4 linked regions of the Homo sapiens genome follow. The protein of the gene in region 1 purifies or fractionates together with the protein of each later gene. This does not show direct contact. Each region holds a gene or a part of one and is shown in the gene's direction. Other genes may lie near its edges. The genes, in order: CHST8, TMED2, ARL10 and B3GALNT2.

Region 1 (8,164 bases):
TAAAGTTAACTGAGTGAAAAAATAATTATAGAAACTGCAGAGGGGAGAAACCCAAACCTGCAATTTACCCTCCCTAGCCCTTGAGCTTTTCAGAACCATCTGGTCGTGGGGAGTCGTGGGCAGGGGAGCAGGGAGAGTGCCTCTTCCCATCTCTCATGCTCCATGGACTGGGTGTGGGGGCTTCTTTCCCCAGTGCCTGGGTCCGTGTTGGGGAGGAGTCACCCGGCTGAAGTATTGTCCCTGGGCAGGGAGATGTCCTTGGGCCGAGCAGCATATTTGACCTGGGGCTTAAACAGCCACCCAGCTGTGGCCTCAGAGGCTACTGGGAGCTGCCTACCTGGCCTCACCTCCCTCAGGCACTGACCTGTGCCAGGGTGGGGATGTTCCCTCCAGCGCTCTTGGGTGGAAAAAGGGTGATCCTCTCGGCCTAGCCAGCAAGGCCCGCTGGAAAGTAAGGGGACAGAGTGACTGACCTTCAAAGCGGGGTTGGGGGGTCCCTAGAGTGCCTGCCGCCTGTGGCTCTCTCCCCCTGTACTCTGCCCATGCCCTCTCTACACACCACTGCAGGAACTTATATTCTTCCTTTGGGCAAATGGCCTTGGGGTGCCCCCATCTCCATGCACAGCCTGGCCCTGTTGGCGTGACTGGCTGGTATGTGGGGGATGGGGAATTTCTCTCCCTGCCCTCTAGGAGGAAGCGGGGTAAGGGGTGAGTCACATGGGTATACTCTGGGTCTGCAGTGGCTGGAGCAGTTAGTGCCCACCCCCAGGAACACGAGGGGGTGTTAGTACCCAGCCTCTGCGCCTCTGAGCTTGGAGTCTGTTGGACACAGGTCTAGCTGCCCCACCTCCACTCCAGGCAAAGGGCCTCGAGCACAGGGACTCCAGTGGTCTGGCCAGAGCCTCAGCTCCCTCTGGTGTGACTGTCCAGAGGGACTGACATACGCCAACCCATCTGTCAGTCCATCAGTGAGGACAGCCCTGGCTGTCACAGGAGAGTCCGTCTGTGCTTGAATATCCTTTGAGCCTAGCAGGCTCCTTTTCAGAGCTGCCTGCTCTATGGAGACCTTGTCCCCAGTGCCCTACAGAGAGAAGCAGGGTGGAGGCACATCCAAGAGCTTCTCTGCCCACCGGGCCGGGTACCAGGGACAAGGACCCAGGTTCCCGCCAGTACCTAGGCCCCCGCCCTGGGAGCACGCATGCTTATTTGGAGGCCTGGACAGTGCAGGGGGTGGCTGCTGGTTACTGACTGGGGGCCTGGAGGTTCCCAACTGGGCTCCCCAAGGCAGGGCCAGAGGGTGTCTCATTCCATGATTTGTCCAGAGGTGCAGATACAGGAGACCCTGGTGGAAAGCTAGCATTCCAGCCACAGGTGGGAACAGGCTTCCCTCAGCCTCCTGGGTGTGAAAGGATGGAAAGGGCACCCCTGGGTAACTTGTAGAGGGCAGAGTCATCCGGGGATTGCACTTGGATTGCTGCAGTGAGCAGGGCCTACACCTGCCCGGGTGCCTCGCGCCTCGGTGATGACTATCCCTCCTCTGCCCCGTAGATCTCGGCCTGATGGACGCCTGGTGTGGACGATGAGGGAAGAACGTGCCCCCCACACCCAAGAGGTGACCCCTGAGCCAGCCCCGGATGACCCTGCGACCTGGAACAATGCGGCTGGCCTGCATGTTCTCTTCCATCCTGCTGTTCGGAGCTGCAGGCCTCCTCCTCTTCATCAGCCTGCAGGACCCTACGGAGCTCGCCCCCCAGCAGGTGCCAGGTGAGTCCTTGCGCTGAGTCCTGCCATCACTGCCCCCAGCTTTCCAGCCTGAAGCTCAGGCCTCCACAGCTGCCCTGGTGTGCTGGGCTTGGGGGAAAGGGGCAAGTCTGTGCCAAGACCCCCGGCAGGCAGAGTCCTGGCTTCCCGGGGAAGGCGTTAGTCTCAATGTGGGAGTGCTGTGTCTGATGCAAGACCTCCAGCCAGTGCCTAGCAGCAGGGTGGCCCCTTTTGGGAGTCATGGCAAGGCTGCTGTCTATTGAGCCAGTTGTTGCCCTTGATGAAACTCAGATTTAAACAGGATTCCACCACCTCTCAGGCCTCTTCCACATTGTCAGGGACATCAGAAAGTAGACAACTTCTCCCTGAGCCCATGCCCCACAAGCAAGACTCAGTTTCCCTGCCCAGCCCTGGGGAATCTAGCCTCTCTGGTCTGGACAAAGGGGGTCAGGGTACCTCCTGGTTTAGTGAGGCCAAGACCCCCTCCGAGGGTCCCCCACTGCTACTTCCATTCCACCCCTGCCTGGTAGCCCACTGGAGTCACAGAGGGCTGCTGGGAACAGGTGGGATGGCAGGGAGGCCAGAGCAGGAAGGGTGATTCTGGCATCTCAGGGCAGACGGAGTGTGGAGAGGGAGTTCAGGCAAGGTTTCTGCTGCCGGGACACGGTCCCCATCCCCAGAGATATGGAAGGACAGGAGGTCAGCTGGCAGGGTGCCAAGGCCTGGGAACTCTCTGCTTTGGAGGGAGAGGAGGGGAGGTGTCTCAGCAGTGGCCCCTGTTAGGGGCAGTTCCATGAAGCCACACACTCACAGTCCACATGCTCTAGGGCATGGACAAGCTGGTGCACCCCCAGAGACACCGCTCCTCTGCAGGGACACCCACTCACTCTCTCTTGCTTGCTCAGTGCTGTGATCCAGAGACAGGATGAAAGAGAAGGGGGCCAGAGGTGTAGGCAGAGGGGTTGCTGCGTAAATCCCTGCCGGAAGCCCAGAGCACAGGAAGGGGTCTTACTCTGCAACCGCTCCGCCCCCATTATGGACGAGCACCCATGATGTGTGGCCTTTAGTGCAGATTGAGGGCCTGTGGGCACCAGGAAGGAAGGTGAAAAGAGCACAAGGAGGCCAGAGCTGGGGCCCTGGGTCTGGCAGCTGCCAGAGGCTCCCCATGGGCAGGCGAATGAGTTGAGAGTCAGAGGGAGGCAGCCAAGGCGGTGGCCTCCAGGAGATGGTGGGCGAGTCATCGGTGCTGACTCACGCCTGTGCCGGGCCCCCACAGGTGGTGGCTGTCAGAAGTGGGTCTGGCCGCTCCCAGGCGTCTGGAGCAGCAGGTGCGCAGCAGAGCCGGCTCTCCTGTGGGAGCTTTGCAGCCTCACATGAGCCCCAGAACAGCTCATGACACTGCATTGGCAGAACAGGGCCCCTCGGGACAGCGCCACCAGGGCAGACAGCGAGCTGGTACCTAAGGTCATGTGTTATCTGCATAGAAGCACAGTCAGGAAGAAGGGCGAGCAAACGCTGACTGGGTGTGTCCTTGGTGTGTGCGTGGTTGGGGGTGCATGTAGGCAGAGGGTCCAGGCGGCCAGTACCCACATTCTGCAGGAGGAGCCTGGGAGAGGAGGCATGAGTGTGCCTGTGATGCCCACCTGGGACCAGGGCCTGGACCCATCGGTGGGACACTCCTGGATGGGACTGTGGTTTGGTGGCTTCAGCTAGTGCCCTGCCCTGCCGCAGCAAGAGTGCTCACTGCGCAGGTCCCTGTTGCCCTGCCCAGCTTCCCGAGTGCACATACGTGTGGATTACAGGTGGGCTGGGGACCCAGGGGACGGCTGGGATTTCTGGGAAGATCGGATCCTCAGGCTGGCAGGGGATGTCAGATGGCACGGAGCCGAGGCCATCATCCCTTTGCAGCTGGCAGACCTGGCAAGGAGCACACGTGGGTCTTCTGATGGTCCATGCAGCCAGACCACCCTCACCACGTGCCAGGTGATGGGCAGACTTGACGGTCTGGGTAAATCACACCAAACACAGTCATAAAACTTTAAGTAATGCTTACGTTACTTTCCCTGAGCAAAGTGCCTCTGACACAGGCTGTTTGTGTTGATTTGTTACTATTCATTTATTCCTTCCCTGTACTTCTCACGGCAGCCTAATTGTGATTCGGTACCAAGAAAGCAATATCAAAGTAATTTTCCACAACATTAGTTACATTTTCTTCTGATCTTTCAAGTGAAACAATCCCATCCTGTTGGCTTCTCTGAGCATATAAACCTTGATTACATTTATCTGTTGGAAACCAGTGCTTACAAAGTGTATGTGTCCAGTTGCATGGCTGGGTGGCCCCAAGGGCCCTTGACAATTCTCCCTGTGAATTTCTGTTGGTGGGAGGAACACATTCTGGGAGTTGCCCTGCCATCCTGATCAGGCAAACAGGCAGGTGTTGGGGTGGAGGGCTGGGAGTGGAGATGAGCGGATCTACGGAGGAAATTCCATACCATGGCATGAACTGTCCTGGGGACGGAGTTCTCTGGGAGCTGCAGTTTGTGGCACAACAAATGTAGAAAGGGGATGGGGAGTGGCGGGAATTCTGAGTTGCTTGAGGTCCCTTGGGGCCTGGCCTCATTCACGTCCCTCCCACGCAGCCACCGGATATTAACAGCACCTGAACTTTACATGGATCAGCCAGCCAAGCTCACCTGGCTCAGGCAGTAGATGGAATTGTAGGGGGTTGCCAGACTTTTGTAAATCAAACCACATTTTAAACATTTTTTTTTTACTACAGTCCAAATCAAATCTTTGGAAACAGGAAGAGCTACCCAGTAAGCTATCCGATGCGAAGATGAAGTTTTGTGTAACAGAGAATTCACTTCTCCAGTTATAATTCTTTTCCAGTCTCCAGGATTGCCAGGCCCTGAGGCCAGAGCTTCTGCTTTCAGGAAATTCACTTTTTGACCCAGTAGACAAGACTTACCTCTTCTCCAAGAGAAAGACTTGGAGACCAGGCCAGAACCAGGAATAACAAACACCAATGGCCAGGTGTGGTGGCACGTGCCTGTAATCTCAGTACTTTGGGAGGCCTGGGTGGGAGAATCACTTGAGCCTAGGAGTTCTAGACCAGCCTGGGCAACATAGCAAGACCCTGTCTCTACAAAAAAAAATAAATAAAATTAGCTGAGTGTAGCGGTACACACCTGTAGTCTCAGCAACTTAGGAAGCTGAGGTGGGAGGATCCTTTCAGCCCAGGAGGTCGAGACTGCAGTGAGCTGATTGTGCCACTGCGCTCCAGCCTGGGTGACAGGGCCGGACTTTGTCTCAAACAACAAAAAATTCCCAATGTACTGGCTCTGGGGGCTGCAGAAGGCTGACTCCACATTTGGTCGAGCAAACTGAATTTTACGAGCTGCTTTCTTTGTGAATGTTTTATCATAGCGAATTTGGAACACATGCAGTAGTGGAGTAGGATAGTGCCATGAACACCACATACCGGGCACCCAGCACCCCCCACCAACACCAGGCTGGCCCCATCCATAGCACCATCCACTTCCCTCCTTTCATGTGATTTTTGAAGTCTATACCAGACATCCTATCAATTCAGCTATAACTATTTCTTTTTTCTTTCTTTCTTTTTTTTTTTTTTTGAGATGGAGTTTCGTTCTTGTTGCCCAGGCTGGAGTGCAATGGTGCGATCTCAGCCCACCGCAAACTCCACCTCCTGAGTTCAAGCAATTCTCCGGCCTCAGCCTCTCGAGTAGCTGGGATTACAGGCATGCACCACCACCCCTGGCTAATTTTGTATTTTTAGTAGAGACAGGGTTTCTCCATGTCGGTCAGGCTGATCTCGAATCCCCAACCTCAGGTGATCTGCCCACCTCGGCCTCCCAAAGTGCTGGGATTACAGGTGAGAGCCACCGTGCCCAGCCTCAGCCATAAATATTTCAATATATTTCTCAGTTTAAAAGATAAGAACTGTTTTATTGACATCACCACTGAACTCATTCCTTAATAACATCAAATTTAATGATTCCTCAATAGCATCAAATAGTCAGTCAGTGTGCAAATGTCTGTCTCACAAATATAATTACCTTTATTTCCAATTTGTTCCATCCAATATCCAGAAAAGGCCCTCACATGGCAGTTGGTGGATGAGTCTTTTAAGTCTCCTTTAATCTGTAAGTTTCCTTCTCCATCTGTATTCTTCTCTCACTATTTATTTGAGGAAACCAGGTCACGGTTCCTATAGAACTTTCTGTAAATTGAGATTTGGCTGATTGGGCCTGTCTGATAAGGATTCACGTTGTTCTCTGTTCTTTGTTGTCCCAATAAATTAGGTGAATCTTGAAGCTTGATCAGATACAGGTTTGGATTGGTTTTTGTTTTCTTCTAGGGGAGTTTTGGGGGACAGGAATTCATGGGTGGTTCTGTATTATTCCATCAGGAGGCTCCTGTCTGCCTGGCTGTCTTATGTTATCAGCCGCCAGAGATCGTGCCTAGATCCAGCCATTCATTAGGGGTTACACAGTGGCAATGTTCTGATTTTATCACTCCTTCTTCATTCTTTTAAGTGGAATGGATTTTGTTTTAATGGGGCAAGGTGAGTCATTGTCAGTGACCCATGAAGCCAAAGTGAGTGGTGTGGATTGATTGGTTTATTCATAGATATGTATATAAAACTACAATGTTACCATACAGATTCTGTTGTAGTTTATTCATATATATATATATATATATATATATATATATATATAAATGCAATGTTACCATACAGATTCTATTGTAGTTTATTCATATATATATATATATATATATATATATATATATATATATATATATATATAATGTTACCATACAGATTCTCTTGCTGGCACACTGTAAATAGTTCGTTCTTTTAATGTTTGGCTTTTGCAGAGTGAGTTTTCTTTAAGTGGGGCTACCCCATGTTTCAGAGCCCTTTGCCTTTTCCTGGAGTCAAGGAGTTGTGGGTGGTGGTTCTAGGGTGCCCAGTGGGGAGGCAGCTGTGGTGGACAGCAAAGATCCCCCTCAGGGACCCCTGGCACAGACAATGGGATTGGACAGCCCCCGATGACTCCTAGGTCTGTGGCCTGTCTTGGGGCACTCCTGCAGGGCATGGGGAAATTTAACGATGAAGATAATAATGAATATTGACTGAACATTTACCATGGGCCAGGCCTCGTATTGAGAACTTTACTTTTTTGAGACAGAGTCTCGCTCTGTAGCCCAGGCTGGAGTGCAGTGGCATGATCTTGGCTCACTGCAACTTCCGCCTCCCAGGTTCAAGCGATTCTCATGTCTCAACCTCCCAAGTAGCTGGGATTACAGCTGTCCACCACCACACCTAGCTAATTTTTATCTTTTTAGTAGAGACGGGGTTTTACCATGTTGGCCGGGCTGGTCTCGAACTCCTGAGCTTCAGGCGATCTACCTGCCTTGGCCTCCCAAAGTGTTGGGATTACAGGCGTAAGCCACCACGCCTAGCTTTACATGTTCTAATGCATATAATTTCCCTTCCCTTCCCTCCCTTCCCCTCCCCTCCCCTCCCTTCCCCTTCTGTTCCCTTCCCTTCCCTTCTTGAGGCAGGGTCTTGCTCTGTGGCCCGGGCTGGTGTATAGTCTTGCCATGAAAGCTCACTGCAGCTTTGACCTCCTGGGCTCGAGTGATCCTCCTACCTGAGCCGCTGAGACCACAGGCAGACGCCACTACACCCAGCTATTTATTTTATTTTTTATACAGACAGGATCTTACCATGTTGCCCAGACTGGTCTTAAACTCCTGGGCTCAAGTGATCTCCCGCCTCAGCCTCCCAAAGTGCTGAGATTACAGGTGTGAGCCACCACAACTGGCTAGGTATGATTCTTACAAATAAACGATGTCTAGTTTGAGACAATGTGCCAGCACTCACTGGGGCAGACACAGAAGTAGCAACAATACTGATACTAGCTAATGCTCTCAGGCCCTCGAGATGAGCCAGGCACAATCACAAGCACTTTTCATATATTTAATACTCATTTACTACTTTTAAAATTTCAATAGTTTTGGGGGTATAGGTGGTTTTTGGTTACGTGGGTAAGTTCTTTAGTGGTAAATTAGGAGATTTTAGGGCACCCATTCGTCACCCAAGCAGTGTACACCATACCCAATATGTAATCTTTTGTCCCTCACCCCCCATCCCAGCCTTGTCCCCTGAGTCCCATAGTCTATTGTATCACTTTATGCCTTTAGGTCCCCACAGCTTAGCTCCCACTTATAAGTGAGAACATGCGGTATTTGGTTTTCCATTCCTGAGTTACTTCACTTAGAATAATGCCCTCCCCATCTATCCAACTTGCTACAAAAGACATTATTTTGTTCCTTTTTATGGCTGAGTAGTATTCCATGGTGTATATATACC
Region 2 (5,695 bases), on another chromosome or scaffold:
ACTGGGTTTCTCCATATTGCCCAGGGTTGGCCTCTGACTCCTGAGCAAAAGCAGTCCTCCTGTCTCAGCCTCCCAAAGTCCTGGGATTATAGTGTAATTGTTTTTAATGTTGGCTATTTGCAGAAAAATAAAACACTACATAGAATTTTTTTTTTTTTTTGAGATGGAGTCTCGCTCTGTTGCCCAGGCAGGAGTGCAGTGGTGCAAACTCGGCTCACTGCAAGCTCCGCCTCCCAGGTTCACGCCATTCTCCTGCCTCAGCCTCTCGAGTAGTTGGGACTACAGGTGCCTGCCACCACGCCTGGGTAATTTTTTTTATTTTTAGTAGAGACGGGGTTTCACTGTGTTAGCCAGGATGGTCTCGATCTCCTGACCTCGTGATCCACCCGCCTCGACCTCACAAAGTGCTGGGATTACAGGCATGAGCCACTGTGCCCAGCCTACATAGTAATTAAAAGCTAAGGCTATAGAATTTGACTGGAGAGTTGGACACAATGGCTTGTGCCTGTAGTCTTAGCTGCTTCTGAGCCTGAGGCAGGAGGATTGTTTGAGGTCAGGAGCTTGAGACCAACCTGGGCAACACGAGACCGTTTTTAAAAAAATAAAATAAATTGGCCAGGCGTGATGGCTCATGCCTATAATCCCAGCACTTTGGGAGGCCGAGGTGGGTGGATCACCTGAGGTCGGGAGTTCGAGACCAGCCTGACTAACATGGAGAAACCGCATCTCTACTAAAAATACAAAATTAGTCAGGTATGGTGGTACATGTCTGTAAGCTCAGCTACTTGGGAGGCTGAGGCAGGAGAATCGCTTGAACCCAGGAGGTGGAGGTTGCAGTGAGCTGAGATCGCGTCATTGCACTCCAGCCTGGGCAACAAGAGTGAAACTCTGTCTCAAAACATAAAAAATAAAATAATAATAATAATAAAATACATTTAAAAATAAAAAGAATTTGGCCAGGCGTGGTGGCTCATGCCTATAATCCCAGCACTTTGGGAGGCCGAGGCAGGCAGATCACCTGAGGTTAAGAGTTCAAGACCAGCCTGACCAACATGGTGAAGCCCTATCTCTACTAAAAATACAAAAATTAGCCAGGCATGGGGGTGTGCACGTGTAATCCCAGCTACTCAGGAGTCTGAGACAGGAGAATCACTTGAACCCAGGAGGCAGAGGTTGCAGTGAGCTGAGATTGCGCCACTGCCCTCCAGCCTGGGTGACAGTGAGACTCTGACTCAAAAAAAAGTAAGTAAATAAAAAGAATTTGATCAGAAACTTGAATGTAACAAATAGAGTATAGTAAATATAGAGTAGGTGTGGATTTTACTTTAAGGATCAAATCCTTAGTTTGAGAGCAGGACAGATGAGCATAGTTTGTCTTGTATTTGATGGTCTGGTAGTAACTGTCAGTATGGATCCATATAACTGAGTAACCTCTTCCATTGAGAACAATTGACAAGTACACAGGTGCTCAACAAATATTTGTAACATATTTGGGGAAAAAGACACTCAGACTGCCATATTTTGATGTTGTAAATAATTGCATTTTGGATAACTGTGATTTTGAAATAATTCCTTAATTTTTTTAGAAGTCAGTTTTCTGATTCAGCAAATTGGATACTAATACAGGACGTTTCAATGGTGAGGGAGAAAGATGGTTGTATTGGGTTTTAACCCTAGAATTATGACCTTGGGCAAGTCACATTTTCTTCTCTGCTCCCCATATACAAGCAGAATGGACTTGGCTGTACCCAGTGAATCTTTAAGGTTTCTTTTAAAAATCTTTGCTTCTACTTTGGGAGGCTGAGGCAGGAGGATCAGTTGAGGCCAGGAGTTCAAGACCAACTTGGGCAACATAGCAAGACCCTTTCTCTACAAAAACAGAAAAAATTAGTCAAATGGGCTGGTGCATACCTGTACTCCCAGCTACTCAGGAGGCTGAGGTGGCAGGATTGCTTGAGTACAGTTCAAGGTTGCAGTGAACTATGATTGTGTCATGGCATTCCAGCCTGGGCAACAGAGCAAACAAAAAAGTCTTTGCTTTGGAGTATGTTGAGTTGCTTGGAGACAAAAGTATTTAGAGTATAGGTGACCCATAGGTTACAATGACTTCACTTAGAAATTTTCAGCTTTATGATGGTGCAAAAGTGATGTGCATTCAGAAGAAACTGAGCATCAAGTACCCATGCAACCATTCTGTTTTTTACTTTCAGTGCAGTGTTCACTAACTTGATAAATAAAATAGAAAATAATAATAAAATGCAGTTTAACGTGTATGAGATACACAACACTTTATTATAAAATAATCTTTGTGTTGTTAGATGCTTTTGCTCAACTGTAGGCTAATGTAAGTGTTCTGATCGTGTTTTACGTAGGCTAGGCTAAGCTATGATGTTTGCTAGGTTAGGTGTATTAAATATATTTTTGACTTATGTATTTTCAACATAAGCTGGGTTTATTGGGATGTAACCCCATCGTAAGTTGAGGAACATCTATTCTATGAGTGGTGTACACAATATTACTTTCACACAGAGTGAAGACTAAAATATTTATGATGCCTATGTCTTTTTGGGGGAGAATTGTTAAATTTTGTTTGTTTGTTTTGTCCTCAACAGTCAACGACAACACAAACAGCAGAGTGGTCCTTTGGTCCTTCTTTGAAGCTCTTGTTCTAGTTGCCATGACATTGGGACAGATCTACTACCTGAAGAGATTTTTTGAAGTCCGGAGAGTTGTTTAAAAAGCCTCTTCCTGATGATCCCAACTCAGAATTCACTGTTTACCAAACACCTTGGTCATAATAATGTCATTAGTTTCTCCATTTTTATTTTCTGAACTGTACATTCACAACTTATGTTTCTTTGAGATTAATAGATATTGGGGGAAAAACGCCTTTTTAGGAAAATTATAGTGAAAATTTGACAGTTGATTGGCATAATTTCTTGTTTGAATGCTGCCTCCATTATATAGGTCCTTCCAGGAACTCAAACACTGTAAGTGAAATATGGGAGTATAGTTTTTATTATTTCTTCTTTTCCTTTTGTTTTCATAATATAATGCAGTTTGTTCAGGAAATCAGCACAAAGCCTGATAGTACTTTACTAAAATGACTGCATTCTTTGGATTCCTTCAGTCTATGGTTCAAGTCACTAAAGATTCATTTTTGTTGAGTCCTTATGAGAAACAGCAGTATGAATCTTGACGGTTTCTGCCCGTCCTAATGGCAGAGCTCTCTGACTTGGGTGTATGCTGCCAGGCTGGGTACTTTCATACTTTGTTTTCTTGTTTTGCTTTAAAACTACGACTCAGCATACATTTTCCCACATACATTTTTACATTGTACCTTAGGACTCAGTCATCTCCACTTAAATTGATGACACAAGCAGCTAATAACCATTTCTGGGTTTCTGCCTAACCCCCTAATTGTCTGTTAAAGCCAATTCTCTGGGTGTCCCAGTGAGTGGTGGCTTTTTTTCTTTCCACATTGGCACATTCACTTCTCCCACTCTTGGCATGTAAGAAATAAGCATTTACATAATTGGAAAAATCTGGATTTCTGATGCCAAAGGGTTAAAGCTTCTTGGATTTCATTTCATTGATATACAGCCACTATTTTATTTTTGATCAGTGGCCTTTGGGCCACTGTTCAGGGTACTGACCATCAGTGTCAGCATTAGGGTTTTGGTTTTTGTTTCTTTTGGGTCTTTCTTTTTTGGCACATGTGAATCTTGTTTTGTGTAAAATGAAATTACTTTCTCTTGTTCTCTGATGATGGGTTTAAAATTAAAAGAGCATCCGGTTTTGGTATGGGGATGATCCAGGATTATGTTGTGACTGATACATATTAGTTACTTGTGCTTTTTTTTTTTTTTTTGGATCTTTGCAAGGGCAAAACTACAAGTAACGAGTTTTATATAATTAATTTAAATTTGTTACAGGTTTTCATGTTCAGGATAAACCATACTTCCACCTTGGGTGAGAACACTTGCAACAGTTTATTAATGAGGTGACTTTCACCTTAGGACAACTGTTGCATGCCAAGTTTTTTGTGTGTGTGAAACACTTCAAAACTGATTTAAAAGATGTAAATTTAAAATTGGTTGTATCTAATATGCCCCAGGTTCGGTAAATAAACAATTCTTTTTAAAAACAGTATTCTGTGTTTTATATATTGACAGCTAATCCACATTTTTTACACACCAACTTTCTGTTCTTATTTGACATGAGACATGTTCATGTTTTCTGAGTATTTATACCTATTACGTCTGTTACTTTTTAATTCTATAAACTTGAGGATAGTGAATGGTACCAAGTTTTAGTTTCTGCGTAGGTTTTCCAGTGTGGCTTCTCTGATGGATCAGTGCTAAAATCTTAAGTATTTTTCTATTTGGGAAAAAAGGGTTGAATTATTTTCACTTGCCCACGTAGTTTATGAATGTGGGAAATAGCTTCAAAGACAGATTAAATGATTTGCCCAAGGCCACAGAAAAGAGTGAAAGGTGGAACCGGAGACTAGATCACCACCTGTAGAAACTGTTCTTCCTCTGTGAAACTAACGGCCTGCTGGTAATAAAAGTAGCTACCATTTCTTGAGTACTGTGTAATGTCTCGATCTAGTACTAAGCACTTTACTTGGTCTGTCTTATTCATGCTTCAAAACTGCCATTACCTTGGGTAAAACCATTTTGGAAGTGAGGAGGAAAACAGGCTTGGAAAGGGTCTTAAGGTCAGAAAACTAGTAGGTAGTAGAGCCCAGAAGACACACACAGATATGTAATTTCCCTGTGCCTTTGCTTTCAGAACTGTCTGTGAAGTCTCCCACCTTTTCTTTTTTTGGAGACAGGATCTCACTCTGTTCCCAGGTTGGCTTGATCTCTGCTCACTGAAGCCTCAACCTCCCGGGCTCAAGTGATCCTACCACCTCAGCTCTCCAAGTAGCTGGGACTACATTTTTTGTTTTTTAAAGACAGGGTCTTGCTTTGTTACCTGGACTGGAGTGCAGTGGCACAAACATGGCTCACTGGAGCCTTAACCTCTCAAGTGATCCTCTCATCTCAGCCTCCCGAGTAGCTGGGACCACAGGCATGCACCACCACGCCTAGCTAATTAAAAAATTATTTTTGTAGAGGCAGAGTCTCCTGTATGTTGCCCAGGCTGGCCTCATTCTCCTGGGCTCAAGTGATCCTCCTGCCTCAGCCTCCCAAAGTGTTGGGATTGCAGACATGAGCCACCGTGCCTAGCCGAAGTCCCATTTTATAAAAGTTGTCAAAGGTGTTTTGAGAATGTGATGATCATTTCACTGAAAATGTGGCTTCAGGCTGTTGTCTTTTACTTAATTTGAGATGACTGCAGTCTGCATGAGTTGTATTCCCATTTATCAATCCCACAAATATTTGAGTGATTGCTGTGTGCTACAGTGATAGTCCTTGGGATAAAGAAGATAGAGAAAAGACCCTATTAGTGTGGGTTTTACATTTTGGTGGCAGAGATGAACCTAATAAGTTTTGTGTGTGTGTGTGTGTGTTTGTGTGTGTGTGGCGAGAAAGAGATAATGGTAAATGCTAAGAAGGGAACATAAATCAAGGTAGGAGTTTCAGTGATACAGAAAGGAAGGTAACAGAAGTTGATTTCAAAAGTCCAAGTGGAATGTAAGGGAGTGTAAGGGAAAACTTCCCCTTTGCTCTCAGGTTTCTCTAAA
Region 3 (7,788 bases), on another chromosome or scaffold:
TGCCTCTTCCCATGGCTGGCTCCTTCTCATCATCCCACTCAGCTCACATGCCACTTCCTTGATGAGACCTACCCAGACCACCCAATCCAGGGCCAACCCCTGTTCCACCTCAGCCACTTTCCCTTTTTTCTGTTTTATTTCTTTCCTTTTTGAAATGTGTTGATGTCATTGCCATGTCCTTCCCAGTTAGGGAGGGAGCTCCTTGGTGCAGGGCCCCTGCTTGCCTTGCTCACCTCTGTATCTGCAGCACCCAGATCAGTGCTTGGCACCTAGCAAGCACTCAGTAAATATTTGTTGAGTGCCTGCTATGTGCCAGGCATTGTGCTGAGGGCTTTGTGGGGATTCAGAGGTAAGTGCCTCTGACTCTCACAGCTTAGAATCCTCAAGTGTCAGAAACATAGCCAGAAACACTAGGGTGCGGGGTGACCAATGGGACTGTGCAGAGGAGCAGAGAGGAAAAGAAAGGTGATCCAGGCTGGGGGACTGTGTTGGCAACCATGTGTTCATAGGATGAAATATGACATTTCCAAGGGAAAAGAAGGGGATGGGGGAAACTGAATGGAGAATGGCTGTGTATAGGCAGGGCAGGGGGTCCTGAGTTTTCTAGACAATAGGACTCCTGGCTCCTGTCACAGCCATCACTGACAGTTTTGAACCTGTAGGAGAAAGCTAGGAATTAGCAAGAGGCAAAGCCAGACAACCCAGGGGAGAGAACTGAAGACTTCCATTTACTGAGCACCTGTGTGTCAGTCCCGTGAAAGGTACATCGCACGTGGTACCTGTGGGTTTTACTGCAACAACCCGTTAGGAAAGTTCAGTGAGGAGACTGGTGCTTAAAGCTAGGGACTTGCCCCAAGAGACCCGCCTATCAGAGCTAGAGCTAAATCCAGTCTGAGTAGCTGCGGAAACTGCGGTCTTTTCCTTGCCCCCGGCTGGTGGAAGCTCACTAAGCTAGAAGCAGGGTGGGGTGGGGGCTGTGGGCAGTGAGCGGGGGCCCGGGGTGGGGTGGGGGCTGTGGGCAGTGAGCGGGGGCCCGGGGTGGGGTGGGGGCTGTGGGCAGTGAGCGGGGGCCCGGGAGGCTCTGAGCTGGCCCCTGGCCTCTCCTCAGTTGGGGGCAGCCAGAACCTGCGCTTCTACTGGAAGGAGTTTGTGAGCGAGGTGGATGTGCTGGTGTTTGTGGTGGACTCGGCTGACCGACTGCGGCTGCCCTGGGCCCGACAGGAGCTGCACAAGCTGCTGGACAAGGACCCTGACCTGCCTGTCGTCGTGGTGGCCAACAAGCAGGTGAGGGCTGTGAGAGGGCAGCTCGGTCCAGGTGACATCCACTCAGAGATGCTTGGGCAGGGGCAAGGAGCGCTGCCTGGGCCCATGGCCTGGAGAGGGTGGCTGAGATGCTGCCCCCACCTCTTCTACCTATGCCCTGTCCTGATCCCTGCCTCTGTCTTCCTTCCTCTTTGCCTCCCTATCATCTCGTACTCTGGAGAGATGAGAAAAATAATTATTAAGTGCCTCCTATATGCCAGGCATGGTGTTTTGTTTTTGTTTTTTTTTTGAGACAGAGTCTTGTTCTGTCGCCCAGGCTGGAATGCAGTGGTGTGATCTCGGCTCACTGCAACCTCCACCTCCCGGGTTCAAGCAATTCTTGTGCCTCAGCCTTCCGAGTAGCTGGGATTACAGGTATGTGCCACCACACCCAGCCAATTTTTGTATTTTTAGTAGAGGTGGAGTTTTGCCATGTTGGCCAGGCTGGTCTTGAACTCCTGACCTCAAGTGATCCGCCCGCCTCAGCTTCCCAAAGTGCTGGAATTATAGGCATGAGTCACTGTGTCTGGCCCCCAGGTGTGGTTTTGAATAACATTTCTTCTTATGCTTCTGTTGACCCTATAAAGTATGGGATGCTATTCCCATTTTATAGATGGGACAGGCTAGTCTTATAATCTTTCCAAGGTTGTACATCTTGAGAGTAATAGAATTGGTCCAGGCGTGGTGGCTCAAACCTCTACCTCCAACACTTTGAGAGGCCAAGGAAGGTGGATCATTTGATTCCAGGAGTTCGAGACCAGCCTGGGCAACATGGTGAAACTCCGTCTCTACAAAAAAAATGCAAAAAATTAACTGGGTGTGGTGGTGCCTGCCTATAGTGCCAGCTACTTTAGAGGCTGAGGCAGAAAGATCACTTGAACCCAGGAGGTCGAGGCTGCAGTGAGCTGTGATCACACTACTGCACTCCAGCCTGGGTGACACAGCGAGACCCTATCTCAAAAAAAAAAAAAAAAATAGTGGAATTGGGACGTGTAATGCTAAAGCTGTACCTTTTCCACTCTGCTATGCCCTTGCAAATTCTGGCTCTAGATCAGAGAGCTGAAGCTGGTAACTGATGAGAGGTAGAACAGGTTAAATAACAGCTAACATTTATTGTGTGCTTACGGTGTGCCATACATGTGGTAAGCACCTGACAATCATGACCTCACTTCCCTCTAAATACCTCGTGATAGGCCCTGCTGTTACACTAAATACCTGGAGTTGCAGCTGGCATGTGGCAAAGCCCAAACTTGAACTCAGATATTCTTCAAAGTTCCTCCTCTTAACCAGTGTGCTGTACCTCTCTTGGGTGCCAGAGAGTCGCCTTGGGCCCAGGAACCCTCAGTATCACAGACCTTGGGTCCCATTCTCAATATCAGGTGAAACTGCCAGAGTACAGAGTCTGATCATATTTCCTGTGGCCTAAACTCAGGTGCCTCTGAGAGCTGTGGGACCTGTTTCCAACTTGACATGGAGAGAGACTGTATGTCTTCGACCTCAGATTCCCCAACCTATTAGGAAACATTTGACAATTATTTATAAATAGGGTGACTGTATGTCCTTTTCTGTCCAAGACAGTCCCCATTTACGACTCTTGTTCTGGCACTATTAATAGTGCCCGCTCTGAGCCTCAGATTGCCCCAGTTTGGACCAGGAATCACATCATGTCCTATTTATAAACTAATTTATAGCAGTTTTGAACCTGTAGGAGACAACATCTAAGGTCCCAGCAGTCTCTGAATTGCTCCAGGAAGAATCATTTAAATCTTGGGCCAGGGTTGAAATTACAACATACCATCACCAGTCATGCTGTGTAGTGGTCCCTTGTTTTCCTCCAGCTAGTTTCTAGAGGTCTTGTCTGGAAGTGATCCTACTGTATCATCTCTCCATGACTGAGTTTAGGAAACTTGGTTATCAAACCAACCTGAGTTGGCACCTGGCTCTACCACCTATCACTGTTACCTTAGCTCAATGATGTCACCTCCCTGAGCTACTTTTCTCATCAATTAAGTGTGGACTGTGAACATTAAATAAGCTGAAGTATATACGGGCCTATCTACAATGCTTGACACATAGGAAGTGCTCTATTTCTAGCCGGGCGTGGTGGCTCATGCCTGTAATCCCAGCACTTTGGGAGGCTGAGGCAGGTGGATCACCTGAGGTCAGGAGTTCGAGACCAGCCTGGCCAGCACGGCGAAACCCCGTCTCTACTAAAAATACAAAAATTAGCCAGGCGTGGTGGCTCACACCTGTAGTCCCAGCTACTAGGGAGGCTGAAGCAGGAGAATCGCTTCAGGATTCCACCACAGGAGGTGGAGGTTGCAGTGAGCCAAGATCGTGCCACTGCACTCCAGCCTGGGTGACAGAGCAAAACTCCGTCTCAAAACAGTGGCTAATGATGCAATGAAAAGAGGTTGGTACAAAGGAGAGCCCAGGGTGAGGGAGAGAGCATTGAGTTTAGGCCAAGGGGTCCAGAGGCTACTTCTGGGAACTTGGGGCCTGATATTCCCGGGGATAGCCTAAGAACAGTGTGTTTCCTGATATTCCCGGGGATAGCCTAAGAACAGTGTGTTTCCTGATATTCCCGGGGATAGCCTAAGAACAGTGTGTTTCCTGATATTCCCGGGGATAGCCTAAGAACAGTGTGTTTCATGAACGACAAGGGTGTCAGTGTGTTAGGAAATGCTGCCAGCTGTGTTCGGACTTCTGTGTCTCACCCAGGACCTGAGCGAGGCCATGAGTATGGGGGAGCTGCAGCGGGAGCTGGGTCTACAGGCTATCGATAACCAGCGGGAGGTTTTCCTCTTGGCAGCCAGCATTGCCCCTGCAGGACCCACCTTTGAAGAGCCTGGCACCGTGCACATCTGGAAACTGCTCTTGGAGCTCCTCTCCTAGGCTGGAGCTCTCCTGCTTGCCACCTGCCTGTCAAGACCATAGTTGTACTGCTGCTGCTTCATTGCCAGACTGGGCCTGGGGCAAGAGCCACATGGCAGCATTTCCCTTTTCCCCTCCTTTGCCTTTCAAGAGCAGGGCCTGGGCAAGGCCAAGAACCATGCAGAAGCCTTCCTGGTGAGGTGGCCGTGAAGCCGAAGCAGGGAGGTGGGTGAGACAGAGGGTGGGGAGGATAGTGTCTGGCTCATTCCAGGCTGGAATGTGGATCCAGCTTTCCCTTCTCTTACCTGTACAGTGAGATGCTCAGTGGGCTCAATCCTCCACTACAGGTCCCGGTACCTGAGGAACCAGTGTAGGTGTCAGAAATACTCCTAGAGCCTCAAGGTCTCCCAGTCCAGAAACAGTCTGGTGACGTCATGCCCTTCTCATGTGGGCAGCTTCTGAGTGGTGACACAGCAAGCCTTTGTTCCTGTCCTGCATTGTCCAGCCCCAGCTCCACCTAAGTGACTTGTGGCCTTGTGCAATCTCTGCCTCTCTGACCCCAGGGCCATTATTTTTAAAGGGAGGTGGTTTCCTAATTCGGAGATGCCTTTCCCAGCCATGGGAGTGTGAAGTGCTAGGATGAACCTGGCCATCCTAGCAAGGAGCTTTCTGAAGACCTCCCTGCCTTTCCCTGAGCCCAGGCCTGGCCTGCCAGCCTCTCTTGACTACAGAATAACTGATATTCACCCACCAAACAGAAAAAGTGAAGGCTGGGTTTTTCCCCTCTAATCTGGAGACAAGCTGCTGCTCTCGTACTAACTGTGCCAGTGCCCATGTTTACAGAAGTCAGGGGAAGGAAGGAGCCTGTGTCCCTGGGACGACAGTCAACTGGAGCTAGGTGTTGACCTCAGAACTGCATTTTATTTATTAATTTATAAGCAGAACAGGCCAGAGTTCTAGGCTCTGTTTCTAGGTGCTGTTTTCAAAACCCCAGATGACAGTCATAGAAAATTTGGAACTTAGGAAAATAGCTGGAATCATGAATGACAATGAGATAACATACAGATGTCAGTGGAGACAAAGTTGTGGGTTCCTCCTCCCACCTGGCTTTGAGGCTGTCGTCGATATCATAGTACTTTACATGGATTCACATGAACTGAAACGCCACCACTTGGCCCAGGATGTTGAAAGGGTGCAAATTCCTTCTGGGTAGATAAGAAATGACTCTGGGAGAGGATTTCCCTTATGTGAATCTAGGTAAAAAGATGGAAAAAAATTGTATTATGTGATCCTAAGGACAGGAATAGCAGACCAGCCAACGGGATGGCCTTGGGTACATCACTCAGCCTTTCTGGACCCAATTTTTCCCCAGTGAAAGCCAAGTTGGACTGAATTTCTGGAGTTCTCATCAGTGCACATTCCATAGTTCTCCAGTGCTTGGCGATCAGCCCAATTGAAGGACTGGCTCTGTACTGACACTTATTATCGGTACAGGCAAAGAGGAGCCTGTTGTCTGTTAGGGACCACTAAATCAACAACCACAAATGGATTTTTTTTTTAAGAGGAGCTGTGCACCTCAATTTGCTGTCTAGTTGAGAATAGAGATTGTGTGCCTTCATTTCATTTGACATTTACCCAGCATGCCTCAGTTCCACACCGTGACCAGTGTAAGAAGAGGAACTATGATAAAAACAGTTCAACAAGCCGCAAGGAGGGTGGGAAATTCTGAAGTCCAGAAGCGAGTGTGATCTTTGGAATAGTGGCTGCTGTGCCCTTGGGCGCCATTTGAAGAATCACTGTTCTTGAAAGTGCTGGTTCACTTTCTGCAGTAAGAAGTGATTTATGGGCTTTTATGTAAAATTTTAAGAATGACTTGGGTTTCAGAGTAGCCTTTGAAACTTTGCTGGCAGCTTTTCATTTTGTCATTGGAAGGCTAAGAGACTTTTCTCCTTTGTTCTATGAACTCCTTGTTCTTCAGGGCTTGAAGGCAAAAAAACCTTAGACAACTTTAACGAAGTTTAAAAAGTATGTTCTGTTTTTGAGCAGAAAAAAGATTCGTGAACTGGTTAGTACTTAGCACCAAAAGCAGTTCAGAATGCTCAGCCCCACAATGTGTGTAGGCTACATTTATAGCCAGAGAAACGAAAATAACTTAGGTTGCCTGATTGGCTGCAGTCTGGCATTTGCCTTACCTGAACATGTTTTAGCAGCCTTCAGCCGACGATTGACTGAAGGTTTGGCTGCTGTGATTGGCTAAAATTCGGCTACTTGTTAGAAGAACATACTTTTAGGTTAGGTTACGAGTTGTTTACACGTTAAGTTACAATTCACTGTGTACAGAGGCAGCTTTAGGCCAGACTTAATTCAGCTTCACAGTGTCCCTCATTTTGCTCAGCCCCTTAATTTTGAGAGATTGACCAAAATCCCACGCACTGACACTACCTTCTGTCACTATTTGACCTCATTATGGAACTCACAGTTTACAATGTTAAATCAGTTAGCGGATTCTGTATGTCTTCATGTTTCTGTTACTCTAACCGTAATGAGACCATTTGAGGTACAAAGGATGACTGCATTGGTGTACTTAAGACTACAACACATCAGTGGGGACCTTAGGATGGCTATCAGGAGTGTAATACCAAGAAACTGGAATGCATCCCTTAATATGAGTCTCCACAAACCAAACTGATTGGAATCAAACAACTCAAGTTCAGACGATAAAAATAGTTCAACAGCGTGCAAGCTCTGCTGCTCATAGCCTGTTCAGGGTATAATGGCAATTAAGGACATAGTTCACTATGAAGTACCTTAATTGTAAAGTGTTTGATTTTTTAGTTAGCTTTTGGTAACACAAGTCATGGTGATTGGGATACCCACTAAAAGAAACATGAAGATTAGAAAACCTTGAACAGCTAAGCTTGCTGTCTACCATTCAGGATGCCTGCAAACCAACCACTAGCTGCTCCTGCAAACACATTATGTGTTCCTTTTCCCTGAGAAATATCCTTGATGTGTTTGGTGGCAGTATCTACAGAAGCGGCAGCCACCACCGCCTTTTGAAGCTCTCCATAGTAGTAGAATCAGGAAAGATAAGCACAGCGTTCAGTTTTGTTCAGCACCATACACAAGCTCCTAGCTGGGCAAAGGAAATCTAAAGCTGCATGAAGTTCCATTACGTGTTTTTGTTGAACACAGGTGGCCTCATCCATCCATCCATCCATCCATCCATCCATCCCTCCATCCGTCCACCCGTCCACCCGTCCACCCATCCACCCACCCACCCATCCATCCACCCACCCACCCACCCATCCACCCATCCATCCATCCATCCACTCATCCACCCATCCACCCATCCATCCATCCATCCATCCATCCTTCCATCCATCCACCCATCCACCCATCCATCCATCCACCCATCCATCCATCCATCCATCCATCCATCCATCCATCCATCCATCCATCATCCACCCATCCATCCATCCATCCATCCATCTGTGGCTTCTACCTGTGCGAATCTCTGTGCTACAAAATTCTTTTCAATTTAGCATTAACTTTAATTTCCATACAGTTGGCACCTCACTGCCGCCAAAAGTGAGTCCGCAGGAACTCCAC
Region 4 (8,353 bases), on another chromosome or scaffold:
CCTGGATGACAGAGCGAAATTCTGTCTCAAAAAAAAAAAAAAATATATATATATATGTGAGAAATAAAGAGTATTGAGAGGGAGAATTGCCCTCTGGATTACAAAATATTATACAACTAGGATCATTAGAGTATTACGGTACTGATGAAAGGACAGATGAATGCAAAACTGTGGCTTGGAAACAAATACTATTATGTTAAAAATTTTTAATAAATTGAGGTGATGTCATAAACTAATAGGGAAATAATGGGCCAGGACAATAGTTAGCTATATGAAAAAAATTAATTAATTTTGAGATCCTTGCATTACACCATATTCCTAAATAAATTCCAAATGGATTAAAACATTAAATAAAACAAACAAGAATATTGACCAGATCTCACGATCAGAATCATCCTAAAATATGGAAAAAAATTAAATATTGATCATTTGAATTTATAAAAATTTAAAGTGTTTTTGTGTCCTAAAAGTTATAAAATTAGAAGGCAAGAAAACTGAGGAAAAATAAAGGGCTTATACAAATGGATAAAAGGAAGATACATGACTAATTAACAAAAGAAATAGAAACAGCTAACGAACATAAGAATATTCAATCTCATTGATGAAAAGTTTTGTCCTTTGAATTAATAAAGAACTTTTTTAAAATATGAGGGTGAGATAAGAGAAACATATTGAAGGCAGACATACACATTGAAACAATAGCAGTATGAATAAAGCGGCTTAAAAATAATATCAGAAAAGGAAATTATCTGAAATGTGGAAAAAGTTTTGTGCACAGAAGTGCCAGTATTACTTATTATAGTGGAATAATGGAAACAACCTGTATGTCCAATAATACGGGACCAGATAAGAAATTATAGTGTGGACAAATGATTAAGTTATATTTTCTGAGACTACTAATTAAATATGGGAAGGCTTATAGGTTAGGTGAAAATAGTTGGATATAAATTCTAACTTACAGTATGAATGGCAAATTTTTTTAATGAAAAAACTTTTAAAAAATGTATGAATTGTATGTAGTATGATTTCTTATATTCTTCTGTTTTCCAAGATCCTTTTCATAATCATGTATTACATTGGTAATCAGAAAAAAAAATTCTTCTTTAGAGCCTTCACAATAAAGTCCAAATTCCTTAGCAAAGTTTATGATTACAACCTGGCCTCTGCCTTCTGTTCACCTTCTCATCATTGCCGTGTTCCTAACTTGCACTAAGGTCATACCAATTGCTTACATTTCCCTAATTGCCGTGTCATCACTAGCTCAGGTTTATTTATTTTATTTTTTATTTTTTTGCCTACAGTGCTCTTGAATGTCCTTCCTACTTTCTGGCCCTGTTAACTGGCCACTTTGACTTCAAGCCCCGGCCCTGTATTTTCAAGAGATAGCCTCCTCTGGGGACCCTTGAGTAGAGTTAAATATAGTTGGCCCTCCATATCCCTGGGTACTGCATCTATGAATTCAACCAACCTCAAATTCAGGAAAAAAGCAAACTTGAATTTGCGCATGCCATTGAATCCACGTGAATGAAGTGATGCGTAGACATCATATTAGGTGTTATAAGTAATTTAGAGATGATTTCGCGTATATGAGAGGATGTGTGTATGTTATATGCAAATATTATACCATTTTATATAAGGGACTTGAGCATCCATGAATTTTGGTATCCATAGAAGGTCCAGAACCAATCCCCCATGAGTAGAGACAGCTGTACCCCCTGCTTTGTGCTGCTCTAACATCCTGTGCATTCCTTTCTCAGAGCACTTATCACATTGAATTGCCATCATGGTTACCAACCACCCTAGTTTGTCTCTCCCTAATTCTAATTCTGTTAACTTGTTCCTACTTACCCTATGAGCCCCTTGAGTGCACAGACTGTTTATATCACTACTGAGTTTTTTTATTCTTTCCATTACACATACTGTCACTTTTACCTTTTTTTTTTTTTTTTAGAAACAAGGTCCCACTCTGTCACCCAGACTGAGTCCTGTGGTGTGATCATAGCTCACTCTAACCTTGAACTCTGGGGCTTAAGTGATCATCCTGCCTCAGCCTCCCGAGTAGCTGGAACTATAGGCGTATACCACCATGCCCAGCTAATTGTTAATTTTTTGTAGAGACGAGGTCTTGCTATGTTGCCCAGGCTGGTCTTGAACTCCTGGACTCAAGTGATCCTCCCACCTCAGCCTCCTAAAGTGCTGGGATTACAGGAATTACTGTCTTGCAATCTTCACTCACTTTAGTCATGAGATTATTAGGGGACAGTAGAAAACAGGTAAGTGGAAAGGTCACTGGTCCTATGAACAAGTACTATAGACAGCTCCCACTCTGATGTGATTTGAAGGATGTTACAAAGTTATTCAAAACTATTTTTGTTACAAGCTTGTCAGAGAGCCAGTGAAAAACTTCCCCTCTAGGTTGTTAAGTGAAACAACACCTTGATTATTTAATATATTCGGATGACTTATGTTTATTCTTCCCTTTAGTGCTCATTGTAACTTTGAACAGTTGTTTAAATACTGCTAGTTGATACTGCAATCTGTGTCATTTCAATCCCACACTCACAATTCCCCTACCCGGCCCTAATTGTTATATTTTCCAGAGCAGGAATAACCTTCTAACATGCTGGTTGAGTATATTTCTTTATTATGTCTATAGTCTGCGCCCTACTCCCCATCAACACAGGATAGGGATCTTTATTTTGTTCACTGGTGTATCTAAAGTACCTACAAAAGTGTCTGGTACATAATAGACACTCAATAAGTATTTGTCGAATGACTAGCTCTGCTGAAATGAGGGATTAGTCCTCTTTTTAGGATAACTCATTCTAATTCACAAAATGAAAATTTTACAATATCAACAGAGGCCATTTACTACCTTTCCTGAGGATAAAAATAGTATACTTTTTCTGGCAACCAATTATTACTTTCTTGCCTTTTCTTTTTATTTTTTTTTTGTTTGTTTGTTTGTTTTTGAGACAGAGTCTCGTTCTGTCACCCAGGCTGGAGTGCAATGGCGCGATCTCGGCTCACTGCAACCTCCGCCTCCTGGGTTCAAGCGATCCTCCTGCCTCAGCCTCCTGAGTAGCTGGGACTACAGGTGCCCACCACTACGCCAGACTAATTTTTGTATTTTTAGTAGAGACAGGGTTTCACCATGTTACCCAGGCTAGTCTCGAACTCCTGCCCTCAAGTGATCCGCCCACCTCGGCCTCCCAAAGTGCTGGGATTACACGCATGAGCCACGGCGAGCCAAAGTACTTTTTTCCCTTAAGCCTGTTTGAGTTGGGTCTTCTGTCATCCAAGACTTTTTTTCAATAATACAGTCACCTTCTGTTTCCACACTTGTGGAAACTTAAAAAAAAAAAAAAAAAAACCGCGGCCGAGCGCGGTGGCTCACGCCTGTAATCCAAGCATTTTGGGAGGCCGAGGCGGGCGGATCACCTGAGGTCAGGAGCTGGAGACCAGCCTGGCCAACATGGCGAAACCTCGTCTCTACAAAAAAAATACAAAAATTAGCTGGGCGCAGTGGCGGGCGCCTGTAATCCCAGCCACTCAGGAGGCTGAGGCAGGAGAATCGCTTGAACCCAGGAGGCGGAGGTTGCAGCGAGCCGAGATCGCGCCATTGCACTACAGCTTGGGTGACAGAGTGAGACTCCGTCTCAAAAACAAAAGCAGAAACAAAAACCGCCCCATAGCCCAGCCGCTCGTTCTCATCCTTCTCTCCCATCCTCACCCCAGTGCCTTCACCGCCCCGTCCCCGCTTTCCGGCTGCCTCGGCGCGGGCCTGGTGGGCCAGGAGGGCTCCCACCCGGGGCAAAGCCTCAAGACGCGGGGCCGGCGTTCTCCCTGGAAGGCTCGCTGCGGCCACCCTTCCCCAGGTCCCCGGAGCCCACGTTCTCCCAGCTCGCCCGGCTCCCGTTTCGCTCCCAGCTCCAGTATGAACCCGGAGCACGTGCAGTTCTACCCTGATTGGCTCGTCATCATCGTGTTCCACAGCCTAGTCCCCAGCTCGCTGTCTGTCACCCTGCGTTCCCAGAGCACAGAACCGGGCAAAGAGCCGGGAACCCACGGCACCAGAGCTAATCCCTGATGAGTCACCGCTCCAGGCGCGGACACTCGGGCTTCCTCGCCCCACTCTACGGGCCAAGGAGACGTCAGCAGGATCCCACCTCCCACAGCAGTCGAGCAAGAGAGCACGCGGAACAAAGGAGCTCTGCGTGATTTCACACAAGAGCCACTCGGATTTCCTTCAAATCTGAGGCAAAGCGCATTTCCCTTCGCGGCTCCGGGCAGCCTCCGAGCACCGGGTCTCCGGCACTACCTCCCCTGGGCCGTGGGGTGGCAGCAAACGTCAAGGGGGATGCGCATGCTCTGTGTGGGGCCTCGCCCTTCGCCCCCGCGGCCGCCGAGTGACGGAAGCGCGTGCTTAGGCTCATGGGAAATGTGGTTTCTAAACCGCGGGCGCCCCCTGCCTGGGCCCAGAGCGGGACTTCAGCTCCCGGCCGGCTGGCTGGCGCGTGTGGAAACGCGGGAGGAGAGGGCGGGGCGAGTGGGAGAAAAGGTGGGCGGAGCCGGTGGGAAGGCCAGGCGGAGGGGGCGGGGCTTCGGCCGGCTAAGCCGCGGCCACCCGCGGTCTGAGGGACCGGAGGAGCGGGGCCGGGAGCTGCGAGGAGCCCCCCAGACGTCGCCGAGCGCGAGGGCGGGCGTGCTCGGAGTGGTCGCTCGTCAGCCGCCGCCCCTCAGTCTCCGCACTTGCAGGTCCCCTCCCTCTCCGCCGGGACGCGGGAGAGCCCGGCTCGCGGCGGGGGCGGCCAATGCGAAACTGGCTGGTGCTGCTGTGCCCGTGTGTGCTCGGGGCCGCGCTGCACCTCTGGCTGCGGCTGCGCTCCCCGCCGCCCGCCTGCGCCTCCGGGGCCGGCCCTGCAGGTGAGGTCCTGGGGCCGGGCGGGTTGGCGGCCGCCGGGGGGGTGGGAGGCCCGGCTTGGTGCCGCGGGGCTTCGCCGGGAATTGTTGGAGGCGGGGGAAGGGCCAAACGCGACGGTCCCCAGACGAAACAAACGGCTCTTTTCATCCTTGGAGCGTTAACATCGGGCAAACTTGAGGGAGCTTTTCTCTTTTCGTGTCCCCGCCTCTTCTCACTTCCCCGTTTCCCTTAACGCCCGCAGAGCCGGCGCCCGCAGTTGCAAGTCCTTCGCCTGTCCCCAGGCCTGGTTAGTGATGTCCGACGCCGCCCGTTCGCCCGGGAGCGGAACCTCGTGTGCCCTTCAGCCGCCAGCGCTTTCTGCTTTGGGAGCTCTGGCTCTGAAGTTGTTTTCTTCCCCCCCAAGTTGTTGGTCTTTCTCGGTCAAGACTGGGGTTTTAGTGCCGTGGATAATGTGTGTGCGTGTTTTCAAAGGTGGCTCGGTTTTGCTTTTAAGGAATAACTTTGCTGTAAGAATATACTGTAGTTCGTATTCTTGGATTATGATGTAAGTCGGTTAAACAAATCTAGACATGAAATAGGGCATGGCCGAGAGTTGGAGTTGTTCCTGTGAGTTTGGATCGCATAACCTGCTAATGCAGTTTACATGGAAATATCAAATTCTTTAACGATCGTGTCCATTTGCTCTAAAACTTAATCTCTCGTAGGAATGAAACCTTTGTTCTTGTTTCGCGTCACAGCCTAATAGAATGCTTTACTTACGGTGCCCAGCGGATTGTTTTGTTAGTGGGTTCCACCACCCTGAACACTACTTTAGCTTTCCCTGTATCTCTTGTCTTCTTCTTTAAGGGCTTGCCCTAGAACATGAAAGAAACCTAGAAAGCTCTTTTAAATATTATGTAATACTTAATTTTGTAACTATACTGGGACTTTTTTCCCTTACCATCTCTCCCCAAAACAGCTGTTTTCTAATCCAAAAGTTCTTAAAATTAGAATTGAGTGTTTGCAGTTCAGCACTCTATGCCTTATAAGTAGAAAGTATTCGGCAATCCTCAAAACAGTCTCAGTTATATGAAATTATGTTGAGGTTATTTTGGTAACAATCTCTTTTCCTATTAGATCACTAGCTCTTTGAAAAGGATTTGTGTGACCTGAATAGAATTAAACACTATTTAAGTGATTTAATGAAAGTACAGTGTTGCTATGCACTTAACCAGTTGATGGGGTCAGGGTTTTGCTCAGTGTTTTTTAGGTTTTTGTGAAGTGAACTAAGAAGAGAACGCCATATATAAAAAATGCTTTGTAACAGCTGCTTGTGTGTTACAGGTTTCTCTCTTTTGTTATGAGTGAGCCCTGCTGGAATCTCCTTGTAGAGCGTCATTAAGTCTGTTTATGGCCTTAATGGTTGTTTAGGGTTCAGTAAAACAAACAAAAACTGAAATGTTAGTAGACTTCAAACTGAAATCTTAGTAGACTTGCTAGGCAGTTTTCTAGTTTGAGACAAGTTTTTCCTACTCCCTTACTGCACTTGAAGGATGATGCCTTTATCTGCCATCCAGTAGTTAGACCAGGCTAGATTAAGGAAATGAAGAAGTAGACCATAGAAAGGAACAGGGTAATAACGTAGGTAAGAAGATCAATACTAGTTATGTTAATTAACTTTGGCTTTGAATGAGTACTGTGTATCTGGTCAGATAATAAATGGGATTTTTTTTTAAGTTCCGGGATACGTGTGCAGGACGTGCAAGTTTGTTACATAGGTAAACGTGTGCCATGGTGGTTTGCTGCAGCTGTCAACCATCGATATTTTAATAATCTAAGTTAAACATGACTGGCCCGGCGCGGTGCCTCACGCCTGTAATCCCAACACTTTGGGAGGCCGTGGTGGGTGGATCACCTGAGGTCAGGAGTTCAAGACCAGCCTGGCCAACATGGCGAAACCCCGTCTCTACTAAAAATACAAAAATTAGCCGGGCATAGTGGTGCATGCCTGTAATCCCAGCTACTAAGGAGGCTGAGGCAGGAGAATCACTTGAACCTCGGAGGCGGAGGTTGCAGTGAGACGAGATTGCGCCACTGCACTCCAGCCTGGGTGACAAGAGCGAAAGTCCATCTCAAAATAATTAATTAATTAATTAAACAAGACTGACTCCTACCTTTCCTTTTTTCCTTTTGGTACTTTCAAAGCTAAAAGCAGTGGAAGCATCTTAAATGCTAAAATTTCCCATAATTCCTTTACCATTGTGCTGTCACCATGTTGAAACTAAAATAGTTGGGTGTTTTTACATTTTAACCCTTGTACTTTAAGCCTAACAGGAGAAAAAAAAACCCAAGATTTTGCTAAGTATTCTTTTCTTGAATTAACATTTTTAAATGTATTTTTTTTTCTCTTCTGCTGCTTTGTCTGTCTTCAGTCTCATTAAGTAATGGCAGTTTCTTTGTTTTTTTTGAAAGAGCGATTTACCTTCCCTGAATATTAAAAAAGGTTCTTTGGCTCGCAGTTGATTCAGCAAATATTTGAGAGCCTACTCTGTGCCAGCTCCTATCGTAGGTGTGGAATTACAGCAGTAATCAAGCTAAACTTCCTGCCCTCATGTAGTTTACAATTTAGAAGGGAAGACAGAGCATCAGGAAATAATTATAAATATCACAGCGGTAGTGATAAGTATAGGGAAAAAAGATAAAGCAGTGTTAAGAGATTAAAGAGATGGTTTTAAATAGGTCAGGGAAGTCCATTCCATTCTGAAGAGGTAACAGTTGAGCAGGGACCAGAATGAAGTAAGTGAGTCACCTTAGTACCAGAGTCAGCAACTTTTTTAATGTGATAGGTTCCCTTAAACCAGTCAGGGAAAGCAACTGGTAAAGAGGAAGTGAAATCCAGTACACCTGAGGGTGACAGAGGAAAATGCAGGTGGAGATAACCATCGGACTAAGGAATCTAAACATAGGATATCTTGATTACAAAATGCTCGTTTTGGGTAATGCCTTAAGTAGGAATTATTTAACGGTTAATTTAGAAAAATGATGTGACAAAAGAAGGCTTCGCTTTCTAGGGTATCTGGAAAGAAAGAAACCAAAACAAAGGAGCATATTCACTCAACAAGTACTTGAGTGTTAGATTCTGTGCTGGATGCCTAGTCCCTTCTCCCAAGGTGCTCACAGTATCTAATGGAAACAGATGTAGAGCAAGTAGAAGGTCAGAAAACAAATTGAGCTTGCTTTGTAATTTTGCCTGGGGTGAGTTCTTCCAAAATTATCCCTATATGCTAATTGTGTCTCTGTGCTTCAGTTTCCTTATTTATAAGATGATGATCTCATAGACTTATTGTGAAGATTCAATTAATGAAACACCCGCAACAGTGCCTGTTTCATAGTAAACACTCCATGAGTTTGAGAGAGGAGTGGTAGTCTGGTGGCCGCTGATGCCTGTGC

Evidence for each region.
Region 2: the proteins of CHST8 (region 1) and TMED2 purify together in Homo sapiens (affinity purification with mass spectrometry; 4 studies listed by BioGRID and IntAct, with this or other methods). This does not show direct contact.
Region 3: the proteins of CHST8 (region 1) and ARL10 purify together in Homo sapiens (affinity purification with mass spectrometry; 4 studies listed by BioGRID and IntAct, with this or other methods). This does not show direct contact.
Region 4: the proteins of CHST8 (region 1) and B3GALNT2 purify together in Homo sapiens (affinity purification with mass spectrometry; 4 studies listed by BioGRID and IntAct, with this or other methods). This does not show direct contact.

The regions. Positions count from the first base shown.
Region 1 is NC_000019.10:33,687,628-33,695,791, forward strand, and holds part of CHST8 (carbohydrate sulfotransferase 8), read left to right. Parts: intron 1-1,548; 5' UTR 1,549-1,634; coding exon 1,635-1,764; intron 1,765-8,164. UniProt on the Homo sapiens protein: Catalyzes the transfer of sulfate to position 4 of non-reducing N-acetylgalactosamine (GalNAc) residues in both N-glycans and O-glycans.
Region 2 is NC_000012.12:123,593,993-123,599,687, forward strand, and holds the end of TMED2 (transmembrane emp24 domain-containing protein 2 isoform 1 precursor), read left to right. Parts: intron 1-2,612; coding exon 2,613-2,737; 3' UTR 2,738-4,590; downstream 4,591-5,695. UniProt on the Homo sapiens protein: Involved in vesicular protein trafficking. Mainly functions in the early secretory pathway but also in post-Golgi membranes.
Region 3 is NC_000005.10:176,367,699-176,375,486, forward strand, and holds part of ARL10 (ADP-ribosylation factor-like protein 10), read left to right. Parts: intron 1-247; exon of another isoform or gene 248-333; intron 334-1,108; coding exon 1,109-1,284; coding exon of another isoform or gene 1,285-1,554; exon of another isoform or gene 1,555-2,258; intron 2,259-4,023; coding exon 4,024-4,197; 3' UTR 4,198-4,523; coding exon of another isoform or gene 4,524-4,550; 3' UTR 4,551-7,788.
Region 4 is NC_000001.11:235,500,714-235,509,066, reverse strand, and holds the start of B3GALNT2 (UDP-GalNAc:beta-1,3-N-acetylgalactosaminyltransferase 2), read left to right. Parts: upstream 1-4,614; 5' UTR 4,615-4,814; coding exon 4,815-4,926; intron 4,927-8,353. UniProt on the Homo sapiens protein: Beta-1,3-N-acetylgalactosaminyltransferase that synthesizes a unique carbohydrate structure, GalNAc-beta-1-3GlcNAc, on N- and O-glycans. Has no galactose nor galactosaminyl transferase activity toward any acceptor substrate.